Homo sapiens: one gene and its partners. The protein of the gene in region 2 purifies or fractionates together with the protein of the main gene of each other region. This does not show direct contact. Each region holds a gene or a part of one and is shown on either strand. Other genes may lie near its edges.

Region 1 (5,043 bases), on a different chromosome or scaffold from region 2:
AGGAGTTGTTGGCATCTTTATCCAACCACAGTCAGTGGTGACATTTTTGCATGTCGAAATTAGCCACTGTGGGAGAATTGACACCACAGAAATTGGCAAATGCCACAAACCAGAACTTTATTTTTTTCCTGGAGAGCTGGTTTACCAGCACACCTCGAATGTGGTCCACAAGTGATTAACACTGAGTAGGTTAATGATTGTCCCTACAATTCAGTCTTCTCATCGGTAAAGTGGGGCCAATAATACTGTAAGAATACTAATATTACTTAGGCTATAGGGTCAGCATGAGAATTAAATGAGTTAATACATGTAAAATACTCTGGACAGCGATTAAATGAGTTAATATATGTAAAATACTCTGGATGGCGACTGCCACACAGGAAACACCCGGTAAGTATTAACTACTATGTTTACTGTTGCCATTGTTATTACAATTATTGCTACCTTAAAAACTTCCACTGGATTTTCATAGAGGACAAGCACCTAAATTTCTTAGTATGACATGCAAAGACCTTTCACAATCTGATAGTTTCAAGCACAAGAAACTTTTCATCATTTCTGGAACTCAAACTGTTTTCCACCTCCAAACCTTGTCACGCCCATGTACCTTCTGCCAGGAAAGCCCACTCCTCCCTTGCCTGTCAACTTCCAATTTTTTTCATCCTTTTGAACCAGCACCCATCACCTCCTCTCTGATGCCCTCTCCACCCACTACATGAGGGTTCCTTCTTCAGTGTTGCCATTGCATATTGCACAACCCTCAGTTACTCTGACAGCACTTTATTGTGATTACTTGTTTACATAACTGTCTCCTCCTTTGAGTCCAGGATTGGATCTGCTATTTCTCTGTGTAGGCAGCACAGTAACACAGGTACTAATAAATATTTGTTGCATGAATGAACATTGCCTGGGAAATGCATAAGAGGGGGGAAATAGAGTACATAGCCTAGTAGGCTATAATAATAATAATAATATTTTTATTTGCTTAAGTGACTCTAAGTATATTGTGTAAAGCAGTGACTTTAGGACCCCAGAGCTTCAGGTTCTGTAAGTCCTAGATTTGTCATATACTCACATCCTGACACAGTCCTACTTATCCTTCAGATGGCTCAGATGTCACGCTCTCTGTGAGGGTTTTCCTCCCAGCTGTCCTCTTGCCGCTCTTTGCCTGCGCACCTATTCACATACGCATAATTGACTCTTCTGGACGTCCCTGTGGGGATCCAGTGGTGTTTGTGTATTCCCACTCCATGGTACAGAGGGGCGGATATTTTGGGGATCCTGTGAGCGTGGTGTTAACAATATTTGGGGATAGTCACAGCCTTAGACCTGTGAATTCATCGCTCACCCTGCCTCCGCCTCAATTTCCCCTAGTGTGATGGGCACAGTGGAAACACCTTCCCAGGGTCGCGATTTAGTGGAGGGCGGCGGAGACTGATGTTGCAGGAAGCCCCCACGCATTCCGAGGAGCTGAGGAATAGAGAGCGAGGTGAGGCGTCGAAACAAGGAAGGAGTCAGGGGGCGTGGAGCGAGACTGGGCGGTGGACGGGACGGGCCGGGCCGGGGCCAGAGGGCGGGGCCTGAGCCGGGAGGGGGCGGAGACAGGGGCGGGGCAGGCGAGGGCGGGAGCGGCTGCCGCCGCGCGGCCAGGACTGTCTGAGGGGAAGTTCGCGAGCGCTGGCTATGGGTCCTGGGGCGCGGCTGGCGGCGCTGCTGGCGGTGCTGGCGCTCGGGACAGGAGACCCAGAAAGGGCTGCGGCTCGGGGCGACACGTTCTCGGCGCTGACCAGCGTGGCGCGCGCCCTGGCGCCCGAGCGCCGGCTGCTGGGGCTGCTGAGGCGGTACCTGCGCGGGGAGGAGGCGCGGCTGCGGGACCTGACTAGGTGAGGGCACGACGAGTGGGAGCGACCGAGGGGCCTCAGTGGGATACACTGTGCCGCAGGGTGGGGTGACTCAGGTTGAGTGTGACCCCAGGCTCATTGTCATGCTGCGTGGGACCCCAGACCCACTGTCGCACCGTGCGACTGAGACATTGTGGCATGGGGTGGGGAGTGGCTCTGAGGGCCAGTGTGACCCCCTAGACCCATTGTCACCCTGTGTGGGACCCTGACACTCCGTGGCATGAGGTGTTGGCGAGGGTTGGGTCACACTGGGACTGCAGACTCCATCACACACATAGTGGCACCCCCCATATCCAGCGTCACACAGCAAAGTTGATACACTGTGGAAGAGCGGGGCGGGGTGACTCTAGGACCTCACAATGTGCTGTGCAAAGCTGTGTGAGCCCCAGGCCCTGTGTCACACTGACACAGACACAGTGGACGGTGCTGTGACAGAGACACTGTGAGAGTGACATGGAGAGAATACGGTGACGCTTTAGCTACGCAAGTATTGACCTTTCAAGGGGGGATCGTGAAACACCGCATGACCTAGTGAGCTGATGTTTAGTGTTAGGAGTCAGGTGACAGTCTTCCACCATATGTGAGGTTTACATGTCATTGGGACTGGATGGGCACGACACTGTGGATATCATACTCTGCATGTGAATGATGCTGAGTAACTGTACAGGTCGCTATATGAATAATGCTTCAGTTCATTAATTCATACAACACATATTTTTGAGTGCCTACTAAGAGCCAGGCAGTGTTCCAGGCAGTGGGGATAAAATGGTGATCAAGAGCCAACTCTGCCCTCGAGGAGTTTGGGTCTGTAGCACCATGACTGTTAATCAGAGATGTCCACTGCCGTCTACGTCTTCAGTTCTTCCTTCTCTTTACACATGTAGAAGCTCTCTAAATACTAAATAAATGATAACTGAGATGTTATATGTGTGTCAACATATTTGATATCAAAAAAGCACTGTGAAAAAACATACTTGATGCAGAAGATACTGAGTGTAGCACACAGCAGTGGATGCTCAGCTAATATAGTTTTGGGGTACAGTCAACAAACTCTAGTGCTACACACTGTGGCATAAAAGGTTGTCAGACTTGGGATGCTGAGGCACCATAGTCATGTATCGACTTAGCAGTGTCCAACTGACAAAAATGAAAGATAAATGATTGTATATGATACCATCTGTATGAATATGTGCTGCGCCTTCTCTGCCTGGGACATCAAGAAGCCTACAACACTGACAGAGTGGTTATGACCACGTCACTATTTGGATATATTAATATTGTACTTATATCATGTGACCTTATCATTGAGCAAAGACAGCACAATGCACTGCTTTTAAAACTTTGCGTGAGTGTGTGTGGTAATAATACTGATTCTGGGGTGACATGAGAAGAAGGTATGTGGAATGGGGAGTGACTCTGAGGTCCAGTGTGACCCCCAAACCCATTGTCACCCTGTGCGAAACTTTGTGACCCCATGACTGTGAGAGAGAGCTATGTAGAAGAGAAGCATTTTGTGGGTGGAAAGTATTTGCGAGAGATCTTGTTAATAGTGACTGAATGAGCTAATGTGGTGCTTGTCCTTAAGTATGTGGCTTGCGTATAAACAGCTTGAAATAGTGTGACAATATACAATATAGGTATGTATTAATTTTAACAATAAATGAAGATCATTTCAATAATTATTGTCACTCTTTGGAATAGCATAGTTGTCTAGTATTCTATGGGTCCATGTTGACCGAGCCAAATGTTTTCTTTTTGTTCATAGCCCAGAGTCATTGGAGTCCAAGCTTATTAGTGGAAATAGGACAGAATTTTTTCTCTTTGATTTCAGAGCCCAGCATTCTCCCTGCTACCCATGCTTGTTCTCATACCAGTAATCTCTTTGGGTAGCTCAGATGGAGACGGGAGTGGGGGGTCAAAATCCCCCTGCTGGTCTTTCAGGTTACATTCTCAGAAGAGAGCACTTGAAGCATTTTGGCCAAAGCAGCTGGCCAACCCCATTCCACCATGCTGGTCTCCTTCACTGTCTTTCCACCACTGTCATTATCACAACTTTGTCACAGCAGGAGGTCTCATACAAACCATATCTCATCTGATTCTCTCTCACACACAATGCTTTGAAATAGATTTGTATTACACTTGTTAACTATTGAGAAATCAGTTAAAACATGAGAAAACTAAAGTCTAGTTGCTCACTCAAGATTGTATTAATAAATCTAATAGGTAGCAAATCCAGGACTAGGACACAGTTGTTTTGATTGTTTATCCAACTTTTTTCCTACTATGCTATGTTATCCCTACCACTTCTTTTATCTGTTATACCAAGACATAGACCAAGCCCCTAACTAATTGAGGTTTTACTAGTGGCCACAGTACATGGTGGTTAACAGTGAATTCAGGAGTTTAACAGACCTCTATTTGAATCGTTGGCTCTGATCTTGGACAAGTTACTTTACCTCTTTGAGCTTTAGTTTCCTAATCTGTAAAATGATGATAAAAATAGTACCTACCACCATAGGGTTTTTGGAAGGATTAAGAGTACCATGTAAAAGTTTTTATCATTGTACCTGGCATGTAACAATTGATGGACAAATGCTAAGCCTTTATGCTTATTATTTTATTTTATTTTATTTTAAGACCATCTAGTGAAACTAGGCCCCACTTTTGGCTCTAAGTATTAACTAGGATTGTGACAGCCTAGATAAAAAAACAAATCAGAAAAGTTCTCAATTATTTTCTCAGGTGACTTATGAACAGTTAATTTTGTAGTTTAGTTTGATATTTTGAAGACTGTCATTCTGTCATTCTGTTCTCTAGTGACTGCTCTAAAACCCAGTGAAATGTTTGCTTTTTAAGAGACAGGGTCTTGCTCTGTCACCCAGGCTAGAGTGCAGTGGCTCTATCATAGCTCACTATAACCTCAAACCCCTGGCTCAAGTGATCCTTCTGCCTAAGCCTACCAAGTAACTAGGACTACGGGTGCACACCACCATGCCTGGCTAGGGTTTTTTTGTTTTTGTTTTTGTTTGGTTTGGTTTGATTTGGTAGAGACGGGGTCTTGCTCTCTTGCCCAGACTGGTCTTGAACTCCTGACCTGAAGTGATCCTCCCTCCTCGGGCTCCCAAAGTGTTGGGATTGCAAG
Region 2 (4,452 bases):
AGAAAACAGTGGGGCTCGGGGCAGTGACTTTCTCAGAATCACGGTGTGGGGTAGATGGCAGAACCTGGCTCACATCGACAATGGCCTGTGGCCCAGGCTCCCTCTGGGGTGCTGCTGGCTTATTCCCACCCACGGGCCTTGCCCTCGCCACCCACCTGTCCATCATCCAGGGCCCTCCTGCCCTGGCATACACTGACATTGGGCTCAGAACAGCTCCCTCATGTTCCTGTCGAGGAGCCTGCCACCAGCCAGAGGGGTGCATAGGTTGTGACAGGCCTTCCCAGGAAGTTTGGTGGCCAGTGGACCCAGCTGAGGCTGGGCTGGAGATGGTGGGTGCAGGGGACTGTAGTTCCCCCACGGCATCTCATTGCAGCTCTTGCTTCCCCGCTCAGGACCTGCCTTGTCCACCATGAAAGGCACCCGGGCCATCGGCAGCGTCCCGGAGCGCAGCCCAGCAGGTGTGGACCTGAGTCTGACAGGTCTCCCTCCGCCTGTGTCCCGGCGTCCTGGCAGTGCCGCCACCACCAAGCCCATCGTCCGCTCTGTCTCCGTGGTCACAGGCAGCGAGCAGAAGAGGAAGGTGCTGGTGAGTACTGTGGCCTAGGAGTCCGGGCCCCTGCCTCCTGGAGGGCTGTTGTTCAGTTGGCATCTGACCCCTGGGTCCAGCTCCACAGGTGAACAAGTGCCTCACATCTGGACATGCTGGATCCTCGTGGCTGTTCCAGGAGGCAGGTAGGACTTGAGTCTTACAGGCGTGGGTGCTGAATCACTAGAAAGTCAAGCCAGAGCTTGGATTCTTTCAGCAACAGCCCCAGGCCTCCTGTGCCACCGCCCTTTGGATTTGTTTGAATCCTCAGGAAATGGGGTTGGCTGGGCTCGGTGGCTCACGCCTGTAATCTCAGCACTTTGGGAGGCCGAGGCAGGCGGGTCATCTGAGGTCAGCAGTTCAAGACCAGCCTGACCAACATGGTGAAACTCCGTCTCTACTAAAGATACAAAAAAAAATTAGCCGGGCATGGTGGTGCATGCCTGTAATCCTAGCTACTCGGGAGGCTGAGGCAGGAGATTTGCTCGAACCCAGGAGGCAGAGGTTGCGGTGAGCCGAGATCGTGCCGTTGCACTCCAGCCTGGCGACAGAGTGAGATGCCATCTCAAAAAAAAAAAAAAAAGAAAGAAATGGGGTTGACCTGTGGGGAGGGGTGATGAGCTCCTGGTGGCCTTGGAGAAACCTAGACGGGTGTGTGGGTGTGTGGGCAGCAGGACAGCCGTGGGAGCTTCGGGGTGAGAGCTGCCTTTCCTGCCCACCTCTGGGAGTAGGGAGGAGGGTGGGTGGTTCCCAGATGGGGGCTGTGAAAGGCAGGCCGGGCCTGCTGCACCCTGAGTTGGTGTCTGCCAGGCCCAGTCTTTGGGGCAAGGGAGGAATCGAGCCGCTCTGTGGGGGTTGGGGCAGAGCCTGACCAGAGTCTGGCCTGAGCTTCCGAATAGCAAGGGCCTGGGGGCCTTGGCTTCCATGCGGCAGCCGGTCTGGGGCTCCCTGCCTGAGGTCCGTGCCAGGCAACATAGCAGGGCAGAGAGAAGGGGTCTGGAGGGCAGTTGAGGCTTCCCACAGGAACCCCTGGCAGGCCCAGGCCAGGGTTCCACTGTGAATAAAAGGCTTGGACCTCCCCCTTCTCCTTGAAAAAGTTATTCCTGTGTCTGCCCTAGAAGCACCCCCAGGTGGGCAGGGTGTGGCCCGCCAGACGGCTAGCCGAGTTCCGGGGTAAGGGCAGCCGGGCCAGTAGCGGACCCTTGGACCAAGCAGGTTCCCAAAGCCTGGGCCAGCAGGGCGGGGACCCGGGATGTCCTGATGTGTCATTGTGGCCGGCAGGTTGTCTAAAGATGTGGTACGCCTCTAGGCATTTACAGACGTAAGCTGTGAAAATAAAAATATGCTGCACTGTTTTAGCAGAGGGGTAACCAGCTTGGGCTAGAGCCGTCTCTGAGCCTGCTGCCTCTCCTGTCCGCAGCCCTGCTCCTGCGTCACTGACCCCCTCGCCCACCTGCCTTGGCCCCTCCCGCTGTTTCTAAAGCCCTAGGTTCATGGCACATGGGGCGGGGAAGACGCACTCGAAATCGCAGATCTGGGCTGGGCGAGGTGGCTCACGCCCGTGATCCCAGCACTTTGGGAGGTTGAGGCGGGTGGATCACCTGAGGTCAGGAGTTCAATACCAGCCTGGCCAACATAGTGAAACCCTGCCTCTACTGAAAATGCAAAAATTAGCCGGGCGTGGTGGCGCGCACCCTTAATCCCAGCTACTCAGGAGGCTGAGACAGGAGAGTTGCTTGAACCCGGGCGGAGGAGGCTGCAGTGAGCCGAGATCATGCCACTGTACTCCAGCCTGGGCGAAAGAGCAAGACTCTGTCTCAAAAAAAGAAAGAAAGAAAGAAAGAGGGAGGGGGAGGGGGAGGGAGAGGGAGAGGGAGAAGGAGAAAGAAAGAAATTGCAGCTCTCTTGTTGTGTGGAGACTGTTGTAAAAGTTTCCGGGCTTTCTAGTAGATGGTCTTTCGGCGGCATGGCCAGGCTCTATCCGCGGCCGACCCAGGCACCTAACCACACTCCCAGCCTTTCTGCTGGGAAATGTTCTGTTGCTGAGTAGAGGTTCAAAGCCACAGCGAGCGCTACTCATATCGATCCCTCCTTTCCTCGGCTGGTACCATTGCCCGCTCCCGCAGTGTTGAGTGGCGACTGCTAACAGTCCCCTCGTTCATGGAATGTTCCAGCTGTTCACTTCAATTCTTTGAGGCCCTCGCTCGATCCGAGACGGCCCCACCCCTGCATGCCTGTCTGCCTTCTGTTGTGCCCATGGTGGGAGCTCGGGAACTGCTGGTGGAAGAGGAACCCCCGCCAGTGTGTGACGTGACCTCAGGGGTTTCTGTTGTGCCCGGTCCCCATCCTCTCGGCCACCTGCCCTGCTACCACTCAGTCTCATCGGGATTCCTGGAGAGCATTTGTTTTGGCCAGGCATGGCTTCACACCTGTACAAGGCGGCACGTGATTCTCTTCCTCCTGGTGTTTGTGGGTGGGGTGGGGTGCTGTCCCCTGGCTCGGAGACCTTCTCGGTGGCCATTGGCCTGGGGTTTCCACTCTACCCCTTGTCTCTAAAGATCTTCCTGCGTCCACGGCCTGCTGTCCCGGGATTCCCCATCCAGGATGTAACTGCAGTTCCTGCTGGTCTTCTGGCTCAAGAGATGTCGGTGCCAGACTGTAGAGGGTCCCTCTTCCTTGCCCCAGCTGTGTGCCCACCTGATCCTCTAGCCCCCTAGATCATTATTCACTCTGGTTCCCTTCCCCTTAAAGAAAAGAGGTCTTTAAATCCCAAGAGCACAAGCTCACTGGGGAACAGACATCACTGTGCATATGTGTCATGGCCATGGGGGCCACCTGCCCCTCCCTGGGCGATGTTGCCTCCTTCTTGCAGGTGGAGTTTAGGGTTTTTAGTCCATGACTTGATTTACCATCTGAGCATGAGTGGTGCCTTTCCACCGTGGTGTCCGTCAGTGAGTGGCAGCCCCTTCATCCCTCCCCTGACATCCCTTATCTTCCTCTTGGAGGCTGCGAAACTGACCCCAGGAAAATGGAGACAGGATGAAGGGCACCCATAATCCCATGGCCCTGATGCAATGACTGGTGCCATTTTGGGGGATGATTTCAAAATTCCTACCATGTGTTTTGAATAGGCCATTCACACCCACCATTTGGGAAAAGGGGGCTCATTGAGCAGTGAGCCTGTCCTGCCCGACCTTGCGGGCCTCTCCTAGGCGGCCACTGTTCTGTTTCTCCTGCACCCACACTTACTCTGGGCACACAGGCATCAGTGATGCTGGAGATGTGTTGGAACAAGTGCCGTATCCGTCAGCTGCGTGGGGCTCCTGCATTCTCTTTTCTTTTTCTTTTTAAGACGGGGTCTTGCTCTGTTGCCCAGGCTGGAGTGCAGTGGAGAAACCACAGCTTACTGCAGCCTCCACCTCCCGGACACAAGTGATCCTCTTACCTCAGCATCCTGAGTAGCATGGATTACAGGTGCTCACCACCCTGCCCAGCTAATTTTTAATTTTTTTTTTCTTTTGAGACAGACTTTTGCTCTTTTTGCCCAGGCTGGAGTGCATTTGTGAGATCTCGGCTCACTGCAGCCTCTGCCTCCCGGGTTCAAGGGATTCTCCTGCCTCTGCCTCCCAAGAAGCTGGGATTACAGGCATGCACCACCATGCCCGGCTAATTTTGTATTTTTAGTAGCGACGGGGTTTCGCCATGTTGGTCAGGCTGGTCTTGAACTCTTGACCTCAGGTGATCCTCCTGCCTCAGCCTCCCGAAGTGCTGGGATTACAGGTGTGAGCCACCACACCCAGCCTACTAATTTTTAATTTTTTTGTAGGGACAGGGGTCTCACTAGGTTGCTGGTCCTTAACTCCTGG
Region 3 (3,500 bases), on a different chromosome or scaffold from region 2:
TCACCTGAGGTCACATCTGGAAAGGGCCAGCTGGCATGGGGCCTGGGATGGAATTTCTCCACGATGCTCCCTGTCTCCTTCAAGAGGCAGAAAGGGGCCAGGCATGGAGACTCAAACCTGTAATCCCAGCACTTCGGGAGGCCAAGGTGGGCGGATCACCTAAGGTCAGGAGTTTGAGACCAGCCTGGCCAACATAGTAAAACCCCATCTCTACTAAAAAATAATACAAAAATACAAAAATTAGCCAGGTGTGGTGGCACGCACCTGTAGTCCCAGCTACTCAGGAGGCTGAGGTGGAAGAATCGCTTGAACCCGGGAGGCAGAGGTTGCAGTGAGCCAAGACCACGCCATTGCACTCCAGCCTGGGTGACAGAGTGAGAATCCATCTCAAAAAAAAAAAAAAAGCAGAAAGGGTGGAACATGGAGGGATGTGAGGGGCACGGAGGAGGCATGGTGTGATGCCACCCTGCTGAAGAAAGGCCTCTAGGTCCCGTGGCTCAGTTGGTCTGTGCCCCTGATGCCACCCATGGCCTCCTGCAGCCCCACCTCTGCTACCGGGACCTGCACAGCGCCTTGCTGTTGAATCCCAAGCACCCGCAGGCCAGGATGCTGCTCCAGAAGATGGTGGCCCAGGCCCAGCAGGCGCGCCAAGATGCGGGGATCCTGGCTGTGCAGGGCAAGCTGCAGCACGCACTGCAGCGGATCAACCGTGCCATCGAGAACAACCCTCTGGACCCCAGTCTCTTCCTCTTCCGGTACTGCATGGGAAGGTGCTGGCCTTGGGTCCCAGGTCCTGCCCAGCCAGACTTTCTGTGTGGTTTAAGGAGAGTCCCTGACCCTCTCTGGGCCTCAGTTTCCCCAGCTAGCCTCTAACAGTCTTTCCCTACTTCCTACTGGGTTAAGGCATTGCAGAGGTGGTCTCTGTTACTGCTGGAAGAGGGATGCCAACACATGTCTCAGTTACCCCAGGAATCCTAGAGCTGCAGCCTGCAAAGCAGTTCACGCTGGGCGCTGAGCCCAGCTCAGTGGAGGAGACTTAGGCTTGAGTCTGGTCCCAGGAACTTACCACATCCTGCTGCATTTCAGGAGGGAGTGCCGCTGCCCTGGCAGGAGTGACTCCAGGGGGCGGTCCACCCAGCCAATCTCTCCCTATGCCAAGGGGCTGGGTTCAGTATCCCACAAGTGATTCAGTGACATGAGAGGCCACTGTGATTTCGGGCCAATTAACCTATCCAAACAGTGGTGGTAAAACACCTGCTTCTTGTACAAAATGCTTTAATGTAGAGACTGGCATACACCTGGCTCCCAAAAAAGAAGGTATTTTTGCAAAAAAAAAAAAATGCTCAGTGCCTAGTGGGTTATCTGAGTAGCAGTCCAGAGCTGGCCCCACGGGACAAACCTAGCAAATGAGGTGGGATCCCCACTGCCTCCATGGGTCAGGAGGCCCAGAGCCGGCAGTGGCTTGTCTGGCCACTAGCCAGTCGGTGGGGGTGCACTGGCGCTCATGTCCCTCCTGCCGTCTCCCACGCCCCCCCCGACAGGGGCACCATGTACCGACGGCTCCAGGAGTTCGATGGGGCAGTGGAGGACTTCCTGAAGGTGCTGGACATGGTGACCGAGGACCAGGAGGACATGGTGCGGCAGGCACAGCGCCAGCTGTTGCTGACCTACAACGACTTTGCCGTGCACTGCTACAGGCAGGGCGCCTACCAGGAGGGCGTGCTGCTGCTGAACAAGGCCCTCCGGGACGAGCAGCAGGAGAAAGGACTCTACATCAACCGAGGCGGTGCGCAGCGACCAGGGCACTGGGGAGGGGGGGTGCGGGGGAGCCTCGCCATCTCTAAGGCCCCCACTGGGCACTTGAGGCCCCTGGGGGGAAGGAGGAAGGGAGAGAGGAAGGAAGCAAGGGAAGAGGAAATGTAATAGTCTCAGTATCCCAGGAACACACTTTGGGAAATGTTGCCTTAGACAAACTGGCTCCAGACTCCTTAAAATGCTCAAAACAGGCAGCTGGGGAACAGTGCCCAGACGCCCAGAAAACTAGAGAGGACGGAGACTGCGGCGGGGGGTTATCAGCCACCAGTTTCAGGCCCTGGCCCCCGGGCTGGAGCCGGCTGGGCTGGGGCTCCCGGGCACTGGGAGTTGGGGGTCCACTCACCCCCGCCTCCGGACCCTAGATTGCTTCTTCCAGCTGGGCAACCTGGCCTTTGCCGAGGCGGACTACCAGCAGGCGCTGGCGCTGAGCCCTCAGGACGAGGGCGCCAACACGCGCATGGGCCTGCTGCAGGAGAAGATGGGCTTCTGCGAGCAGAGGCGCAAGTGCGTGGGCTCCCGCCCCCACGGTGGGCGGGGCAGGCCCGAGGGCAGGGCGGGCAGGAGGCCAACTGCTGGGATCCCTGGGTCAATCAAGCTGCTTCTCTCCTCGGGGGCGATGGCTCATCCCTGTAATCCCCACGCAGGTGGATCGCCTGAGGTCGAGAGTTTGAGACCAATCTGGCCAATATGGTGAAACCCATCTCTATTAAAAATATAAAAAAATTTAAAAATTAGCTGGGCGTGGTGGTGTGTGCCTGTAATCCCAGCTACTCAGGAGGCTGAGGCACGGGAATCCCTTGAGCCAGGGAGGCGGAGCTGGCAGTTAGCCAGGATTGCGCCACTGCACTCCAGCCTGAGCGACAGAGTGAGACTCTGTCCCAAAAAAAAAGGCTGGGCACGGTGGCTCACGCCTGTAATCCCAGCACTTTGGGAGGCCGAGGCGGGCGGATCACAAGGTCAGGAGATCGAGACCATCCTGGCTAACCTGGTGAAACCCCGTCTCTACTAAAAATACAAAAAATTAGCCGGGCGTCGTGGTGGGCGCCTATAGTCCCAGCTACTCGGGAGGCTGAGGCAGGAGAATGGCGTGAACCCGGGAGGTGGAGCTTGCAGTGAGCCGAGATCAAGCCACTGCACTCCAGCCTGGGTGACAGAGTGAGACTCCGTCTCAAAAAAAAAAAAAAAAAAAAAAAGCTTCTCTCTCCGTTATGCTTTCCTTTTTTTTAGATGGAGTCTCACTCTGTTGCCCAGACTGGAGTGTAATGGCGCCATCTCAGCTCACTGCAACCTCCACCTCCCGGGTTCAAGCAACTCTCCTGCCTTAGCTTCCCAAGTAGCTGGGATTACAGGCACCTGCCACCACGCCCAGCTAATTTTTGTATTTTTAGTAGAGACAGGGTTTCACCATGCTGGCCAGGCTGGTCTCAAACTTCCCACCTCAGGCGATCCACCTGCCTTGGCCTCCCAAAGTGCTGGGATTACAGGCGTGAGCCACCATGCCCGGCCTATACTGCTTTTCTTTGTGATATTTTTACTACTCAATAACTTGGAACTTAATCATAGTCAAATTAATATATTCATTTTAGCCGATGGGTTTATGCCATTCTCAGAAACGCCTTCCCTACCCCAAGATCATAAAGATATTCATTGATGTTGGAGTTTCACACTGGCATCGAAGTGTTGGC
Region 4 (4,452 bases), on a different chromosome or scaffold from region 2:
AGCAGGGGAGTAACAGCCTCTGTTTCAACTTGGGTAAATCTCAGGAAAGAAATCAAAAGCAATCACCCAAACTTGCTGTGATACCCCTGCATTTCATAATCTAATAAATTAAGAAAGTTTCAGCTCTTGCTTTCTTGGAGGATCTCTTTGGGACCAATTACCTCTAGAGGAAGAATGAGAAATACTGACAATTAAAAGTGCCACAAAAAGAGGGAGAGTGTTTATACTCTGGTGAGGCTCTTAGCCACAGGGGAAATTAGGGAGCACCTGCATGACCTGGATAATGAACAATTAAAAAGAAACACAGGTAGACATTGAAGAGCTCATCCCTGTGGGAGGATGCCAAGGACCAATGACTTGAGCCTTAAAGAGGAATTCTTTGGACTGATGAAAAAATGCAGATGAATTTAATTTCCCAGGAGGCTCAGAGGTTAAACTGTCATTATAGAAACTCTTTGTGACTATCTAACTTGGGGTGAGGCAGGATGACACCTAATTAATGAACTGATCATATGGCAGGAGACCTTTTTACAGAAAGCCAGGCATAAAAAGGAAAATACAACCCAAGTGGAGCTTCTGATCAATAAATGTCACTTTTTGTCATGTGGCTCTATGTATAAATATGTTTTAAGTGTTGTTTCCTGTTTATATAAAGCCATAAATGACCCCATCAGCCCTGTCTGTTTAGAAGGGGCCTGAGTCAAGAAAATGAGAACTAGCTACCTTAATGGTGCTTTCTGGTCATCCTATGGATTGGGTATTTTTTTGTGTGTGTATCTAACTTATGTCTCTACCTGAAATGTGCCTATGTCCTGTTGTTCTGCTTTCAGGCAACTTCTCCATCATAATGATCCATAGGCAGTATTCACTTGTTGACTGTTGTACTCAACTAATTCTCAGACTTTTATGGCTACCAGTACAATATAAATTTATTGTGACACAATTTAAGATGATTTGGATTAAGTGTCAATGAAAAATGCTGCTTAGGTAAAATACCATCTAGAAATGAAATACCTAATGATTTGTGAAAAAGCATTGAGCAAGCTCCAGTGAACAAGCAAATTACTACAGAGCACTTTGCTAGTGGATTCTGTCAGCACCACTGTATCTGGGTCTATTGTCAAATAAAGCATATCGTGTTGGTACCACAAAAGTAAAGAGATCCAACAGCCGAAGAGGAATTGAATTTCAGTCAAAAGGCAGTTGTGATGTTTTATAAAAAACATGGAACTTGCAGAAATGATACCCAAGTTGAAATCTTGCCTCTTCAACTTTCTAACTGTGTGACTTTAAGAAAATCACTTTACCTACCTGAGACTCATCTATAACTAGGTAAAATGTTGAATAAACTTGCTCTCACAGACTGTGATGGCATCATATAAATTATTTTTAACCATATACATAATAATATGCCTGATATTTAGGAAAGTCTCCATATTAGTAAAAGGGCCTAAACACATGGGATTTTCTTTACTCCCTCCTGAAACATCATTAACATGACAGTTAAGAAATTATGTAAATTATAAAGAGCCATAAGGAAAGAGAAAAAAGTAAAGGATATGCCACCAGATGAGATATTAACTAAATTTTCAAGAATTTAAAGTAGATTTTAAGAGTGGTACCTGGCTTAACATAAATAAGAAAACTGGAACTTACGTCTCCACAGATGGGAGAGGCCAATAAAAATCAAGCCATCTTGAATATGATAACATCAGAGGGGCTCAGGAACTGAATGCATGAGATACTCTTCAAGGCTAGAAACAGGACTGGTTGAAAGTCTAAAGAACCATTAGAAAGTTAGATGCCTTATCTTACCGTAAGATGCAATGATTATTTCTGTAAATATTGAACAAGAGAGTCTCAGTGATCAGAGATGTTGGACACCATGAGGAAACGAGTCAAGCTCTCTACTGAAAAATGGGAATTAAGTAAAAGTTGACATGCTGAATGGTGAAAAGCCCATTCCCCCATCCCCTTTTTCAATCTCAGAATTCTGGCAAAGAGAACATCTCTTTAGCATAATTGACTCAACAGAAAAGACCTAAGATTGTCATATTCAGGAGTCACTCAACAAAATGGCCAGAGTATCTTACCTGAGTACCATATAGTCAAGTCTACCAGTCAACAATTTCTGTCTATATCCATGGAGTTTGCAATTAGCATTTTAGTGTCTCATTCTTAAATAGTAACAGACAACCATGGATCAGCAGTATTGGGAAAGACCAGTGTAAACAAATGTAAGGCACCAAGATGTAATATATATCAAATTCCAAATTGAACTGCAAAACATCCCTCCAAACAGGTAGTCAAAGATTACTTGTACAATTCTGGAATTCCTCACTCTTGTTCAGGAGAAAACAGGTAAAGAAAAAGGAAAACTGAGAGAAGGATTCCTTTGAAGAAAACTGTGCTATGAGTGCCCCATCACCACCAAGAAAGATGAGGTATAGTTCTTGATAACCTCAGGTTAAAAGAGGGACTTCACTGGGACGACTCAGAGAGTTGGATATGTGTGCCTTGGCATTAGTGAGATGCAGTTAGTGGTATCAGAGTTACCCCTGGAAAAAGTCCATAGATGAGTCTGGCTGAAAGAGCCTATGGCAGCTGAATAGAAACATGCAGCTAAAAATTATAACTCCACTGGCTGTCAGAGAAAAGAGTAAGTTATCCATGGTCCTTCTATGAAAATATGAGAGGAAGAGATTATCTGGAACGATGTTAATAATTTCTAAGGGTTCACTAGGAGGGAACAATGAAAGCCCCTTGAAAAAAGAATCTTTACAAAACAAATCCTCAAAGAAACATGACAAGGAGAGAATAGCTAGTCAAGACACGTAAAGGGCAATCAAGAGTTCACTGCTGGACCTGTCTTAATCCCGAAAAGAATTCAGGGAAAAAAGTCAGAGCTAAACACTGGCTGAGCCTGGAGAGCATAAAGCCAATTTAACAACAATCCTAGACAAGTTAGACCTTCCTGCCTTCTATTCTCATCTCCATCCTCCCTAGTGTTTCAACCCTAGAGCAGGCAGGTGTCAAGGCTGGCAATAAGGGTGAGGGTGGTAGATAACAAAGCGAGGTCAGGAGAGAGGAAAGGCCATACCCCTGTCCTCGCCTCCTGCAGCTTGAAGGTCCTAAAAAAGAGAGGGAGTGGCTGTCACTTTTAAAGTGCTGGAAGCCTTAACTATTACACAGACTGAATTACCTAATGGCTTAGTTTTTGTGTTTTGTTTCTTAAATTGATTTTATATTTAGAACTGTTTTTTAACAGTAATCAGAAAAGACAGAGGACTGCACAAGCTTTTATTTATGAGAGGAGAAATCCTTCCCCACTGAGTTCATTCTAAAAGGACAGGAGAAAAACAAAGTAAAGCAGCTTTCTGATTCCATATTTGTTCAAAACAAACATAAAAAGGAGAAATTAAAAAAAACAAGACAATTCAGAAAACACATGAAACAAACATACAAAGGGGGAAGAATGGGTCATGTAGAAAGGATCAAGGATAAAAAAAATTTAATAAAAACTTGCCAATCATGGAAGCTAGAAGACAGTGAAGCAATGTCTTCAGAATTATGAAGGAAAATAGTTTCCACTTAGAATTCTATGCCCAGGCAACTTAAGGGCAATGACAGAATAAAAATATTTTCAGATATTCAAGTTCTCAAAAATTCTTTCTCAGAAAGCTACTAGGGGATGTTCCCCACCAAAATAAAGGTGGTAACATGTATAAAACATAGACATGGGACCCAGGAAACAGAGCATCCAAAGAGGAAACTAATAAAAGGAATTTCCAAGAGTAATTACTAGATATAATTCTAAGTTAATGAACCAGAATGACTGCTACTCAGCAGGAAGAAATCATTTCATGTTGAATCAGGAGGAGGAAAGTCTCCTGGAGGGATATCTCCAGAAAAAAAAAAAAGAAAAGAAAGAAACTGACTTGTTGCCAGATGTAGTTGGCCATTTTGAAAAGAATTTCACAGTTCTGTTGCATAACTTAGTGATAAGTACAATAAAAACTAAGCCAATTTCAAAAAGGATTCAAATGTTAACTTTAGAAAAAAATGAATTTATACCAAAAGGACACTGTGATAATAATATTAACACTACTATACCTCCATGTGCTTGGCACTATTCTAAATACCACGCTTGTATTGTCTCTAAATCCTCATAACAACCCTATAAGGTAGGCAATTTCATTAGGACTATTTTACTGATGAGGAAAGTAAGGTACAGAGATGTTAAATGACTTGAACAAATACCACAACCCAGATTTGAACCTGGAAGTCTGACTCTAAAATCCAGACTCTAGTGTAGTCAGTTTGCTACATGGCTTACTTGTGAGCAGTATTCTATGATTGTCAACATATGCACACTTAATACTGATCTAACCTGTAATTATGACATAATTATATATTGAAAAAACAGGGGAGGGGAAATATGTTAGGAGTGAG
Region 5 (4,452 bases), on a different chromosome or scaffold from region 2:
CTGTTATTGCTATTAACATTGAAATGGCCTGATCTTAAGTTTCTGAGCTTCCTGTCATTGGAAGCATTTAAGTAGTCCTGAATAGTCAACTGTTAATAAATATTATAGGTATTTCTATTTTGGAAAGAGATTGAACCAACTGCCCAGGGTTTCAAGGATTAAGTTCAGCAGTTAATACCAGAGACTTGAAAAATGGTGGTTTCTGGTAACAGAGACCTGGAAACCATGGCTTAAGCAAGAGAAGGATTTTGTTTCTTTGGTATAACAAAAATCCAAAAATAGGTATTTTAGTAGACCTCAAGTGATTACTCCTTGATCGCATTAGGAACCCAGGCTCCTTTTAACCTTAGCTATTTTCAACATATGCTTTTCACCTGAAATCATAAGATAGCTTATCTGCCTCCAGTATTGTGTACATGTAAAAGGTGGTAATAAGGAGAAGGATAGTGGAAAAGGGGGCATGTGCCAAATGAGTCAGTCCTCTTTAAAGAGTTCTTCCAGAAGTTCAAGCCAGTGGCCTCAATTGACTAACATTGTATAGCATGACCACCCCTACCTACAAGGGATGGGAAGCTAACTGGACATGTTGTTACTAATAAAAACCAGAGTATGTCAGAAAGAAGGGAAGGTTTGATGTTGGGAGGCAAGTAAGTTTTTTCTTCTACCCATCAAAATCTTTTTTTAGTTAGAAAATATTTGAATCTAACATGTCCCACTCCATTGTGGCACCAATACAAATGGTTATGGATACATGGCTTTATTATAGTTTGTTACTAGGAATAGTCTTGGCCGTATTGATTTGAATTCTCCATGTCTAAAAACAGGAACAAGCAGGTCCAAGAACACTTTAAAAGCACTTCCCACTCAGCTGCTTGTTAACTGAAAGAATGTAGAAAAGCTACTCAGAAGAGTAGCTATTCAGGCCAAACTTCCTGATAGTAGAGCATTGTTAGCTTTACACTTTTATTTCCATCTATTGCTGCCTAGATTCCCTTCCTTACTGTACTTCTTTATTCCTTTCCTCTTCTCTGTTCTTGCCTTTCAAATTTTTAGACAGGGTCTCACTCTCTTGCCCAGGCTGGAGTGCAGTGGCTTGATCACAGCTCTCTGCAGCCTCAAATTACTGGGCTCAAGCAATCCTCTCATCTCAGCCTCTTGAGCAGCTGAGACTACAGGCGTGTACCACCACACCCAGCTAATTTTTTTAATTTTTTTGTAGAAACAGGGTCTCACTATGTTGTCCAGGCTAGTCTCAAACTCCTGGCTTCAAGCAATCCTCCCACCTTGGCCCCCCAAAGTGCTGGGTTTACAGCCTGAGCCACAGAATTGAGCTCTTTAAAATTTTTAAATGCCCCAAACTCTTTTTATTTATCTCTCATTAGAGATCTGTGGGTTCCTTATTACCTGGGAAATGAATACATTTCCCAGCTTGTCCTTGAGTTAAGAGACTCAATTTAGAAGTTAATTGAAATTATAAACATTGAAACCCTGAAAAAAATGTTTTTTTTTTCCTCGTGATACAGGTTGTTTCTTATCTAAAATGCTTGGGACCAGAAATATTTCAGATTTTTGATTTTTTTTTTAATTTGGGAATATTTGTGTTAGACCAGTTGAGCATCCCAGATCTGAAAGTCTGAAATCCAAAAGGGTCAACTGAGCATTTCCTTTGAGTGTCATAGTGACTCTCAAAAAGTTTCAGACTTCAGAGCATTTTGAATTTCAGATTTTAGGGTTTGGGATGCTCAACATGTAACAGTATTCTTGATTTGGGAAACAGTAATTATAAGGAATGTGTTTATTTTACATTTTATATTGATTTATTTATTGAGATGTTGCTGGATATATGCCAATGGATATGACAGAGGTCCCCCTTCTTATGGCCAAGACAGAAAATATTTTATGCTTTGTAGGCCACCTATGCTCTATCAGATTTTTCTTATGGGCTGGATTTAGCCCATCACCATTTTTTAATTCTTGCTTTAGACTATGTAGTCAGAAAAGCTATTGGCAAAGTTTAGCAGTTAAGAGTTACATGTCCTGATTTCTGTATTCAAAATGGCACTAAAATAATAGACTAAGGGCAGACAAGACAGAAACAGAAGAGTTACATTCCTAAGTTTTTGGCTTATTTAACTGGGGCCATTTATAAGAATGGAAGGCTGGGAGAAAACTGATCTGGGAGGTAAAATATATTAATAAGTTCAGTTTTGAAGGTGTAACTTATAGATTCCTAAATGTAATTGTCAGTTAGAGTTTAGGAGGAGTCCATCACACACACACACACACACACACACACACACACACACACACACTTATAGATAGATCACACACACCCTTATAGATAGATCACACACACACATAGATAGATAGATAGATAGATAGATAGATAGATAGATAGATAGATAGATAGATAAATCAGCATATAGGTGGCACCTAAAGCCATGGGATTGTATGGTATTTCCTAGGGAGAACAGAGGGCTATAAAGTAAGTCAAAGGGGTAGTCCAGCTGAGGAGCCTAGAAAGCTTAAGAGTATTTAGTGAGTTAAGAAAACTAGAGAAGAGTATCATGGAAGCTAAAAGAGAATGAAGTGGTTAGCTGTATCAAGTCATGCTGTCAAATAAGATAAATAGGCAGAAAAAAACAATGCACAGGACATTATGGACTTTAACAAGAATAGTTTCACTGGAATAGTATGGGGCAAAAACTATATTGAAGTTTTGCTCTGAAGACCAACAGAGAAATGGTGCTATAGCAAAGAGAATGATGTGATCAAGGGACCATTTGCTTGATGATAGAATGATTCAGTAGAGAAGAGGGACTTGACGATGCAAGAGGAGGGATTTACTTGCATATGTTATGGATTGGCTGTGAAATTCATGTATTTTTGTTTGTTTGTTTGTTTGTTTGTTTGTTTGTTTTAGATGGAGTCTCACTCTGTCGCCCAGGCTGGAGTGCAGTGGCATGATCTCAGCTCACTGCAACCTCCGCCTCCCGGGTTCACGCGATTCTCCTGCCTCAGCCTCCCGAGTAGCTGGGACTACAGGCACATGCCACCACACCCGGCTAATTTTTTGTATTTTTAGTAGAGACAGAGTTTTACTATGTTAGCCAGTATGGTCTCCATCTCCTGACCTTGTGATACACCCGCCTCATCCTCCCAAAGTGCTGGGATTACAGGTGTGAATCACCACGCCCTGCCTGAAATTCATGTATTTTAAGGGGCAAACAGGAATCGTCTTGGTTAAAGCAAAGGGAATAAAGAATTTTCTAAATAGACTAAGAGCAAAATCCAAGTGCTTGAGAAAGCACAGCATACTTGGGGGATGGCAAGCACTTAATATTGGCTGAAATGGAGTTTCCTTTTAAGCTAATGACAAAAGTAGTTGGCTAGATCAAGAAATACCACTGTATTATGCCACAGTGTTTAGAATTTATTCTGAGGACAGTGAGGATCCTCTGAAGAATGTAAAACTAGGAAAATAATTTTTTTTTTTTTGAGACGGAGTCTCGCTCTGTCTCCCAGGCTGGAGTACAGTGGTGCAATCTTGGCTTACTGCAGCCTCCGCCTTCCAGGTTCAAGTGATTCTCCTGCCTCAGCCTCCTGAGTAGCTGTGACTACAGGCGCCCGCCACCATGCCTGGCTAATTTTTGTATTTTTTAGTAAAGATGGAGTTTCACCATGCTGGCCAGGCTTATCTTGAACTCCCGACCTCAAGTTGTCTGCCCGCCTCGGCCTCCCAAAGTGCTGGGATTACAGGCGTGAGCCACCGCACCCAGCTGAAAATAAATTTTTGATAGCATTTTTTAAAGGTAAGATAGAGGAATATAAATTTGGAGGTTGGCAAAACTGGAGGCAGGAGGCCAGGCGCGGTGGCTCATGCCTGTAATCCCAGCATTTTGGGAGGGCAAGGTGGACTGATCACTTGAGGTCAGGAGTTCAAGAACACCCTGACCAACATGGTGAAACCCTGTCTCTACTAAAAATACAAAAATTAACCGGGTGTGGTGGCACTTGGCTGTAATCCCAGCTACTCAGGAGGCTGGGGCAGTAGAATCACTTGAACCTGGCAGGAGGAGGTGGCAGTGAGCCAAGGTTGCGCCACTGCACTCTAGCCTGGGCAACAGCACTTGGCCTTCCAAAGTGCTGGAATTATAGGCGTGAGCCCCTGTGCCTGGTCCCTCTATCCATTTTTAGCCTGTTTCTTTCAAGTGTTTTTAAAATATGTTTATTATGAAACTGAAAGTTTTTCTTTATGACAAATCATATAATTTATCTTTTTCTCTTTACGAAGATTGAAGAATTGGAGGAGAAACTTAATGATGCACTTCACCAGAAGCAGCTACTAACATTGAGATTAGACAACCAATTGGCTTTTCAACAGAAAGATGCCAGGTAAGAAAAGTTTTTTTTAAAAAAAAAACAACATCTATTTAGCAATTAAAAGTAATT
Region 6 (4,452 bases), on a different chromosome or scaffold from region 2:
ACACATCAGTGTGTTGGAGCAAAGTTCACGAAGGCCATGGGCTGACTGAGCTGTGGTGTACGAAATGACATTCAGCTAATACTGGACTCGGTTCACCTTTGACACCTGGAGAGGTGGGGAAGCCAGGGGGTGGGGAGTCCAGCTGGGGATCCTTGTGTTTAGGAAGGGGGCGGCCAAGGGATGAGCCTTTGGGAGAGGCCCCGTGTGGCAGGAGGGCTCATTTCACAAGCCAACAGGCCTCTAGCTCGCCGCTCCAGGTGGATGTTTGGTGACCTGAAGGGCCCTTCCCAGTCCAAGTTGGCTTTGCAATGGGAGGGGTAGGTGCAGCGAGGGTCCCAGAGACAGAAATCCTCTTTAAAGGAAAAAACAAAACAACAAAACAAAACAAAACAAAACCCCAAAAAAAGAACCAACTGAACAGGGAGTGGAGAGATTAGCAAAATGAATCTGAACGGAAGTGCCACCTTCTCCCTTGTCAGACAACAAAGCAGCCATTGGTTGAGATATCTGAGTCGCTAAGTGAACTCCCACGTGGACACAGCCAGCCCACGATCTCTGCCACCTACATGGTCAAGTGCAGGCCTCCGCCTCTGAGATCAATGCGTTAGTACTTCTTCACCGTGAAACCCGAAAGGTCGGTTGATGTAGCCCTTGGAGCTGGAAGGGGCGAGGCCGGTCTATCTGTACACGAGATGGGAGAGCTGGGTGGACTTGTAGTTCAGCTGGTTGTTGGGCATGAACTTGTGCAGCTCACTCTTTTTGTAGCAGGGGTCATAATGGTAAGCGCTGAGGCAGGCGTCACATGAGACTTTTGAACACTGGGTGCAGGTGTTGGTGGCGCCTGGGCGGTTGCAGAAGCCACAGCGGGAAGTGGGCGTGGTGGAGGGCTTGGATTTGGAGTGAAGGTGCGGGAGGCGGTCGAGGCCCTGAGTCTGGCCTGGGTACTTCTCCCGCAGAGATGCCCCGTGGGCCAGGCTGTCATGAGTCGAGGCCTTGCTGGGGAAGGCGCTGGGCTTGGAAGCTGGAGGACAGGTGAGCAGGCTGTCACAGCGCTGGCAGAGGGAGGAGCTGCAGGACAGCCCGCAGCTTTGGCACTTGGAGAGGGCGGACTCTTTGGCAGGGGGCGAGCGCTTGTGGTAGAGGGAGTGGGCATCGTTTCTGAGCAGCCACACATCCGGCCGCAGAGCATCCTGCCGACGGTAGGTGGCCCTGGGTTCAGAGTCTGTGTACAGATCCACGTCATCCTGAGTGGAGAAGTAGGTACCGCGCAGCAGGGCCGGGCCGTTGCTGGGGGAGGCGGGTGGAAGCACATCCGGGCTGCCGTGGGGGGAGCTGGCCATGGTCAGCAGCGAAGGGGATGGGCGGATGATCTCATCCTTGAGGTCGTCCCCCACATCCGTTGCCACAGGCTCCTTCCGAAGACTCAATGAGGCCTTCAGGGGTGGCTTCCGGCTCTCCCAGTAGCTGTCATAGGCATCCACTGACCTCGAGGGCTTGGTCACGCGGGGCTTGTAGTAGTCCTTGGCCGCCCGCTCGCTGGCCGACTTCTGGAGTGCCACTCGTGACATGGAGGCCGTCAGGTGCTCCCGGCCCTCTGCCCGCCGCCGCAGGGCGTCCGAGCAGCCGCGCACATCCTCTGCACTGCTCTTGCGCTCGCTCACAATGTCCAGCTCGGAGTAGCCCTTGTCCTTCACTTGTGAGTGGATTTCTAGCATCTGCTCACACTCGACTTTGGCCAGAAAGAGCTCAAAGGAGACCATCTTCACCTGGAGGGTCTCCACGAGCTCTCTGAGCTTGTATGCAGTGCCCAGCTCAGGTGTGTAGCCCATGCAGCTCAGGATGGCTCGGATGTCCTCTTCCAGTAATGTCGACTTGACATAATAAACAAAAGGGCCCGTGTAGGTCTAGAAGGGAGGGAGTAGAAAAGAAAGGTGGGGTTTTCTGTCAGAGACACAAGACAGAGACTATGTCAAAGCAAAGGATGTCCAGCTCTGAAGTGGGGCGGCGGGGAGAGGGCAGGGCAGGGAAGGATCTCGACAGCCTCACCCTGCGGGAGGCAGAAGACGCAGGAGCTGGGGCTTGCTAAGCACTCAGGAATTGTGCAAGGAAATGACCCAGCAGCTCCTTTCTTTTGTTTGAGACGGAGTCTCGCTCTTTTGCCCAGGGTGGAGTGCGGTGGTGCGATCTTGGCTCACTGCAACCTCCGCCTCCTGGGTTCAAGCGATTCTCCTGCCTCAGCCTCCTGAATAGCTGGGATTACAGGCGCCCGCCAACACGCCCAGCTAATTTTTCTGTTTTTAGTAGAGATGGGGTTTCACCGTGCTGGTCAAGCTGGTCTCAAACTCCTGACCTCGTGATCCACCCGCCTCGGCCTCCCAATGTGCTGGGATTACAGGTGTGAGCCACCGCGCCTGGCAGCAGCTACTTTGTTAAACACAGGAAGCAAAACCTCTCGCTTCCTAGTGGGGCACGAAGACTCTACTCCATATGAAGAGAGAGCCTGGGCAAACATGGCTGAATAAAGGGGCCAGATTACAGGCAGAACGCGGTGACAATCAGAACGTTCCTCTCTGGTATTTCCATGAGGGGCTGAGTAACACGGCAGACTGAAGGGCCTGGCTAGGTGACAGCTCTCCTGTGCCATCCCCTCTCTTGATTACCACTCCTCCCATGGCAGAATGAAGAAGCCTGGCTAGGTGACAGCTCTCCTGTGCCATCCCCCGCGTGGTCTGATTCAGGATCCCTCTCTCAATTCCCCCTCCTCCTCTACTGTTCCCACTTAGTACAGAACACCCCTCAGCTTGCTGGGACCGCTGAGAAGCTTCCTAACTGCTCTCCCCATCCCTCCCACCTCCCCCCACCCCTCTACAGCCTACTTCCCATACCACAGCCAGAATGACCCTCTTCAGATGCAAGCCAGATCCCACACTGCCTCCTTCCCCGCCTACTCAGAACAAATCCAAGCCTTGCCCTGGGCCACAAGACCCTGCATAACCTGGCTGCCCCTGCCTTCCCAGCTTCTCTGCTTAAGGTGTGGCAGCCGGGCCAGAAACGGTTCAGAGGTGATGCTGGAGAGACGGGGAAGGTTCGGAGCCCGGAAGGATCTGAGAGCACAGGATGGATGGGATCAGACTGGCATAGCCTCTCAGGAGGGACTGCCAGGGGCAGGAAGAGAGAAGGAGGGCCTGTATGGAGGCTGCTCCAGGACCTCACCTTGATGCTTCTGAATTCCTTCTTCCACGGGTAGAGGAAGAGGTTGATGCCCACCGTCTCCAGCATGCTGAAGGCGCCGTGCAGAGCCCGCAGGCTAGAGGAGCTGAGCGAGCGCAAGGAGCTCTCCACCACCTCATAGAACTGGATCAGCCGGAATCGATAAAAGGGATCCACCTTGTGCAGGCTGAGCAGGGTTGAGGCTGCCACCCGCAGGCACTCATCGCTGCCAGGCCGCTGCCTGCTGGTGGTGGTATCCACTTTGCTCTCATGGAACTGCACGTACTTCCGAAATAAGTCATCCTTGAATTTAGTATCCATTGAACTGGGCTTCCCCATCCGATCGAGGGGGGCTACCTTATCTCCTCCATGGCTTCTGGATTAGAGGCAGGGACATCACTAAAAGCATGGACATGTTGCCGCCTGGACCAGCGGAGTGCTCTGGAAGGAGGGGAACAAGAAGCATGTCATTCCTCGATACGGTCGCGCTTCGGCTTCAGGTCGCTGAGGCAAAATGAACAGCAGAACTGGCCTGGGCTACACTGGACCCCAGCAGCACACTACAGAGCATGTACTACAAGCAGGGTTACAACAGAGGCCAGAGAGAGATGGACCTTGACTTTGTTGTGCTCACAAATGAAAAATACGATTAATATTCCTGAAAGAGAAATTCGGGTGAGTACAGCAGGAGCTCCTGTCCTGGTTTCGTTGGGGAAGGGCGAGTTTAGGAAAGCCCTCTTGAGACAGCAACAGACCTGAAGGATGAGGAGTCTGCCAGGCCAAGAGGCCGGGGAAGGAGTCGCAGTAGAGGAAGGCCCTGAGCTAATAGTACCAGAGGCTCCAGACACGTGACGAGCTTCACACACACTAACTCGCTTACTTTTTTTTTGAGATGGATCCTTGCTCTGTAGCCCAGGCTGGAGTGCAGTGGCGTGATCTCAGCTCACTGCAACCTCCGCCTCCCGGGTTCAAGCGATTCTCCTGCCTCAGCCTCCCAAGTAGCTGGGATTACAGGCACCTGCCACCACGCCTGGTTAATTTTTGTATTTTTAGTCAAGATGGGGTTTCACCATGTTGGCCAGGCTGGTCTCGAACTCCTGACCTCAAGTGATCCACCAGCCTTGGCCTCCCAAAGTGCCAGGATTACAGGTGTGAGCCCCCATACCCAGCCTCACTTTTTCTTCTTAAACAATCCTAGGAGAGAGACGCTACAGGCAGCCCCAGTGGACCATGTGCAAACTG
Region 7 (4,452 bases), on a different chromosome or scaffold from region 2:
TTTACCCTTATTTTTGCTTAAAATATTTGAGTGGATTTATAATCGATGAAACTCTACTGTAAAAATACCAGTGAGAAATAGGGATGTTTTGTAATGTTGAAGGTAAAATTTGTTCATTTCTATGGGAAGTTCTAATACGTTAAATGTCAGAATATCTTATAGTAGTTTATTTGTGCTGTATTTTTTCTTTTTAGTGTATAATGACTTCCCTTATATTTCTTTTTTTAAACAGCTTTATTTAATTAATTAATTTATATATTTTTTGAGACGGAGTCTTGCTCTGTCGTCCAGGCTGGAGTGCAGTGGCACGATCTTGGCTCACTGCAAGCTCCGCCTCCCGGGTTCATGCCATTCTCCCGCCTCAGCCTCCTGAGTAGCTGGGACTACAGGTCCCCGCCACCACGCCCAGCTAATTTTTTACATTTTTATTAGAGACAGGATTTACCATGTTAGCCAGGATGGTCTTGATTTCCTGACCTCGTGATCCGCCTGCCTCGGCCTCCCAAAGTGCTGGGATTACAGGCATGAGCCACCGTGCCCAGCCTTAAACAGCTTTATTGAGATATCATTGACACACAATAAACTGCACATACCTAACTGTACAATTTTACAAGATTTGATCTATGTATACACATGAAATCATTCCCACATCACTTTCCCAAATTTCTTTTTTTTTTTTTTTTTTTTGAGACAGGGTCTTGCTCTGTTGCCCAGGCTGGAGTACAGTGGCATGATCTTGGCTCACTCAACCACTGCCTCCTAGGTTCAGTCAATTCTGCCTCAGCTTCCCGAGTAGCTGGGACTACAGGCTTGTGCCACCATGGCTGGCTAAGTTATGTATTTTTAGTAGAGACTGGGTTTTGCCATGTTGGCCAGGCTTATCTCTCCACCTCAAATGATCCGCCCACCTTAGCCTCCCAAAGTACTGGGATTACAGGCGAGAGCCACCATGCCCACCCCAAATTTTCTCATTCTCCTTTGTAATTTATCTTCCTTTCATTCTCCCGTTTCCTCTAAACCACTGGTCTGCTGTCACTATAGAGTAGTTCAAATTTTCTGGAATTTTAGATTAATGGAATTATGCAGTAATATACTTTTTTTTGTTGTTGAGGCTTCTTAAACTCAGAATAATGGTTTGGAGATTCATTCATGTTGATTTATGTAGTAGTAGTTTATTCCTCTTCATTGCTGAGTAGTATTTCATTGTGTGAGTACACAGCAATTCATTTATCTACCTATTGATGAACATTAGATTTGTTGCTAATTTTTGGCTATTACAAATAAAGCTGTTATGAATACTTGCATACAAGTATTGTATAGACATATACTTTCATTTATCTTGGGTAAGTACCCAGGAGTGGAATGGCTGGATCTTATGGTAGGTGTATGCTTAGCTTTTTAAGAAACTGCCAAACTGTTTTCCCAAGTGATTGTACCATTTTACATTCTTAACCACCAGCAGGTAAACATGCTGTTTCCTTTGCATCCTTGTCAACACTTGGCATAGTTGGTCTTTTTTAGACATTTGTGGTATTTTATTGTGGGTTTTTAAAATTTTTATTTTTTTAATTTTAAAGACAGGGTCTTGCTCTGTTGCCGAGGCTGGAGTACAGTAGTACAGTCATAGTTCCCAAGTAGCTAGGACCACACACATGTGCCACCATGCCCGGCTGTTTTTTAAAATATTTTATTTTGTAGAGATGAGGTCTTGCTATGTTGCCCAGGCTGGTCTTGAACTCCTGGCCTCAAGCAGTCCTCCCACCTTGGCCTCCCGGTGTTGAGATCACAGGCATGAGCCATGTGTCCAGCCATCATTGTGGTTTTAATTTGCATTTCCCTAACAACTAGTGATGTAAAGAATCTTTTCATGTGTTTTTTATGCTATCTTTGTATCTTCTTTGGTGAAGTGTCCTAGTCTTTTGCTGATGTTTTTATTGGGTTGTTTTCTTATTATTAAATTTTGAGAATTCTTATATATTTTGAATACAAGTGTTTCATCAAATATATGCTTTGCAAAGAATTTCTCCCAGTTTGTGTCTCATCGTTTTCTTAACAGTGACTTTTGAAAAGCAGAAGGTTTTAATTTTGATGAGGTTCAACTTATAAATTTGTTTTTTATAGATTGGGCTTTTGGTGTGGTATTTAAGAAATCTTTGCCTAGCCTAAGGTCATAAAGATTTTCTCCTATGTTTTCTTCTAGAAGTTTTATGTTTTAGATTTAGATCTGTGATGCATTTTGTATTTCTTACATGGTGTGAGTTATGGATGGAAGTTAATTTTCTGCATATGGAAATTCAGTTGTTCCAACACTGTTGAAACGACTATTCTTTCTCCATTGAATTGCCTTTGCACCCTTGTCAAAAATCAGTTGTCTGTTATATCCTTTTTTATTGTATCAGTTGATATACACATGGTATTACACAGTATTGTTAATTATCACAGCTGGATGACCAACTAAATGAAAAGCAGCTATCTCCAAGCCAGTACTTGATAATGTGTTTTTGTCACGTTTAATCACATTTCTAGTTTCCTTACAATAGCCTTTGTGGAAGGCTTTCCTACTCAGACATTCCTTCTCCCTCTTTTCCTTTCTTTTTTTGTTATTTGCTCTCTGTTATAATAATAAAGTCTGGTGATGAGGGTACATACATACCTTATCCCTTTTAACTAATCTCAAATACACTTTTTAAAAAATGTTTCCTATTGATAATTATATTACTTTTCTTTGAAAACCTCCCAACCTAGATCATTCACTTAATTTTAATTTTTCTATTCTTGATTATGTGTTTCTTCCCCTGTTGTATTCTGCTGAGTAATGGCATGATTGGAAAGAGTGCCCACTTAAGTTAAAGCCTGGCTACACAGGTGTAGCCTTGAAGAAGTTGTGAGCCTTATCGAGCCTCAAGTTTCTAATGTCTAAATGGGGCCACTGATTCTTCACTCTGGGTTGTTTTGAAATAAAGGAGATGTTTATGTATGTCCACATACAGAAACAAATGGATATGAAGTACCTCAGTGGAGAGTTAGTGCCTTCCCCTTACCCAACTCCATGAACTCTGAATAATCATTTTGTTTGAACTGGGAGGCAGGACAGGCCTCTGCTCTCTGGGGAGGACAGGCACTGACCCCTCTGCAGTCTATCCAGGCAAGTAGCTCTGAAGAGAACTGGAGTTAGAGACAACCCTGTCTGTTCAAGTCATGCAAGGATGGGAGAAGAGCTCCTCACCATGCACACCCTGGATCCCGCTGTCTTCGGGGCCCTTCTCTATCAGTAATCCATCCTCTCTCCCGAATTCAGTCTCGCCTTTCCTTGACTTTTTGCTTTGGGCCTGGAAACAATATGTCAAGTCCATTGACCCTGGTGCTGCTTCTAGCTGTCTCCTTTCTCAGCCAGCTTCTTACAGGGGTTGTCTGTGCTTATTGCTTCTACTACTTCACCTGCCAACTCACTCCCCAGCCAGGTACCATTTCTTAGAAACGTTTCATGCCACAGGCATCCATATCTTAATTGCCTAAACCAGTGGAAACTTTTCAGCCCTAATATAACTGAAGTTGTTTGCAGCATGTTTACACTGTTGGGCTGTCTCCCTCCATCTTGAAACGTTGCTTCCTTGGCATCACTCTTTCTTTGTTCTTTATTTTTTATTTATTTATTTATTTTTTTGAGACAGAGTCTCGCTCTGTCGCCCAGGCTGGAGTGCAGTGGCACGATCTCGGCTCACTGCAGCCCCCGCCTCCCGGGCTCAACCAATTCTCCTGCCTCAGCCTCCCGAGTAGCTGGGATTATAGGCATGTACCACCACACCCAGCTAATTTTTGTATTTTTAGTAGAGATGGGGGTTTTACCATGTTGGCCAGGCTGGTCTGAAACTCCTGACCTCAGGTAATCCACCCGCCTCAGCCTCCCAAAGTGCTGGGATTACAGGCATGAGCCATCGCACCCAGCCTGTTTGTTCATCCTTTTAGTTGTTCATTCAAAGCCAAACTGCATGCCCCTCCATGAATGAGGATATAGCAGAGAGTAAAACACACAAAGCTCCTGTTTGCATGGAGAGCACACTGTACTAGGGGGAGAGAGATAATAAATGAACAAATATTTTCACTTTATTTATTTGGTGATAAATGCTTTAGAGAAAAAAATAAGGTGGGGGGATTGAAAATGCTAGGGGTGGGAGTAGAGGTGTTATTTGATATTGGATGGATAGGAAGCCCTTGCTAATGTAAGCACATTTGAGTAGAGACCTTAATGAAATGAAGGAGCCAGCTCTCTGGCTGCCTACAGGAAGAACGCTCCAGATAGAGGGCACAGTGCAGAGGCCCTGGAGCCAGTGCTCACATGTGTACCCACATCCCAGCCACCATGCGGGTAAGGCTGGGGGGAGCAAAGGGCTGGAGATGAGGCAGAGGAGGTAGTGGGGGTCCCTATACCTTAGGCCTTATTGGCTATGACAA

Evidence for each region.
Region 1: the proteins of CEP131 (region 2) and P4HA3 purify together in Homo sapiens (co-immunoprecipitation; one large-scale study listed by IntAct). This does not show direct contact.
Region 3: the proteins of CEP131 (region 2) and TTC16 purify together in Homo sapiens (co-immunoprecipitation; one large-scale study listed by IntAct). This does not show direct contact.
Region 4: the proteins of CEP131 (region 2) and LPXN purify together in Homo sapiens (co-immunoprecipitation; one large-scale study listed by IntAct). This does not show direct contact.
Region 5: the proteins of CEP131 (region 2) and PIBF1 purify together in Homo sapiens (affinity purification with mass spectrometry; one large-scale study listed by BioGRID and IntAct). This does not show direct contact.
Region 6: the proteins of CEP131 (region 2) and SPATA2 purify together in Homo sapiens (affinity purification with western blotting, with the first as the bait; one study listed by BioGRID). This does not show direct contact.
Region 7: the proteins of CEP131 (region 2) and RASSF8 purify together in Homo sapiens (co-immunoprecipitation; one large-scale study listed by IntAct). This does not show direct contact.

What each region holds. Positions count from the first base shown.
Region 1 is NC_000011.10:74,308,252-74,313,294, reverse strand, and holds the start of P4HA3 (prolyl 4-hydroxylase subunit alpha-3 isoform 1 precursor), read left to right. Parts: upstream 1-1,654; 5' UTR 1,655-1,683; coding exon 1,684-1,883; exon of another isoform or gene 1,884-1,933; intron 1,934-5,043. UniProt on the Homo sapiens protein: Catalyzes the post-translational formation of 4-hydroxyproline in -Xaa-Pro-Gly- sequences in collagens and other proteins.
Region 2 is NC_000017.11:81,216,014-81,220,465, reverse strand, and holds part of CEP131 (centrosomal protein of 131 kDa), read left to right. Parts: intron 1-392; 5' UTR 393-409; coding exon 410-586; intron 587-4,452. UniProt on the Homo sapiens protein: Component of centriolar satellites contributing to the building of a complex and dynamic network required to regulate cilia/flagellum formation.
Region 3 is NC_000009.12:127,722,579-127,726,078, forward strand, and holds part of TTC16 (tetratricopeptide repeat protein 16), read left to right. Parts: intron 1-540; coding exon 541-755; intron 756-1,541; coding exon 1,542-1,786; intron 1,787-2,177; coding exon 2,178-2,319; intron 2,320-3,500.
Region 4 is NC_000011.10:58,544,539-58,548,990, forward strand, and holds part of LPXN (leupaxin), read right to left. Parts: intron 1-4,452. UniProt on the Homo sapiens protein: Transcriptional coactivator for androgen receptor (AR) and serum response factor (SRF). Contributes to the regulation of cell adhesion, spreading and cell migration and acts as a negative regulator in integrin-mediated cell adhesion events.
Region 5 is NC_000013.11:72,788,153-72,792,604, forward strand, and holds part of PIBF1 (progesterone-induced-blocking factor 1), read left to right. Parts: intron 1-4,294; coding exon 4,295-4,395; intron 4,396-4,452.
Region 6 is NC_000020.11:49,904,942-49,909,393, forward strand, and holds part of SPATA2 (spermatogenesis-associated protein 2), read right to left. Parts: intron 3,652-4,452; 5' UTR 3,550-3,651; coding exon 3,214-3,549; intron 1,905-3,213; coding exon 678-1,904; 3' UTR 1-677.
Region 7 is NC_000012.12:25,964,697-25,969,148, forward strand, and holds part of RASSF8 (ras association domain-containing protein 8), read left to right. Parts: intron 1-4,452.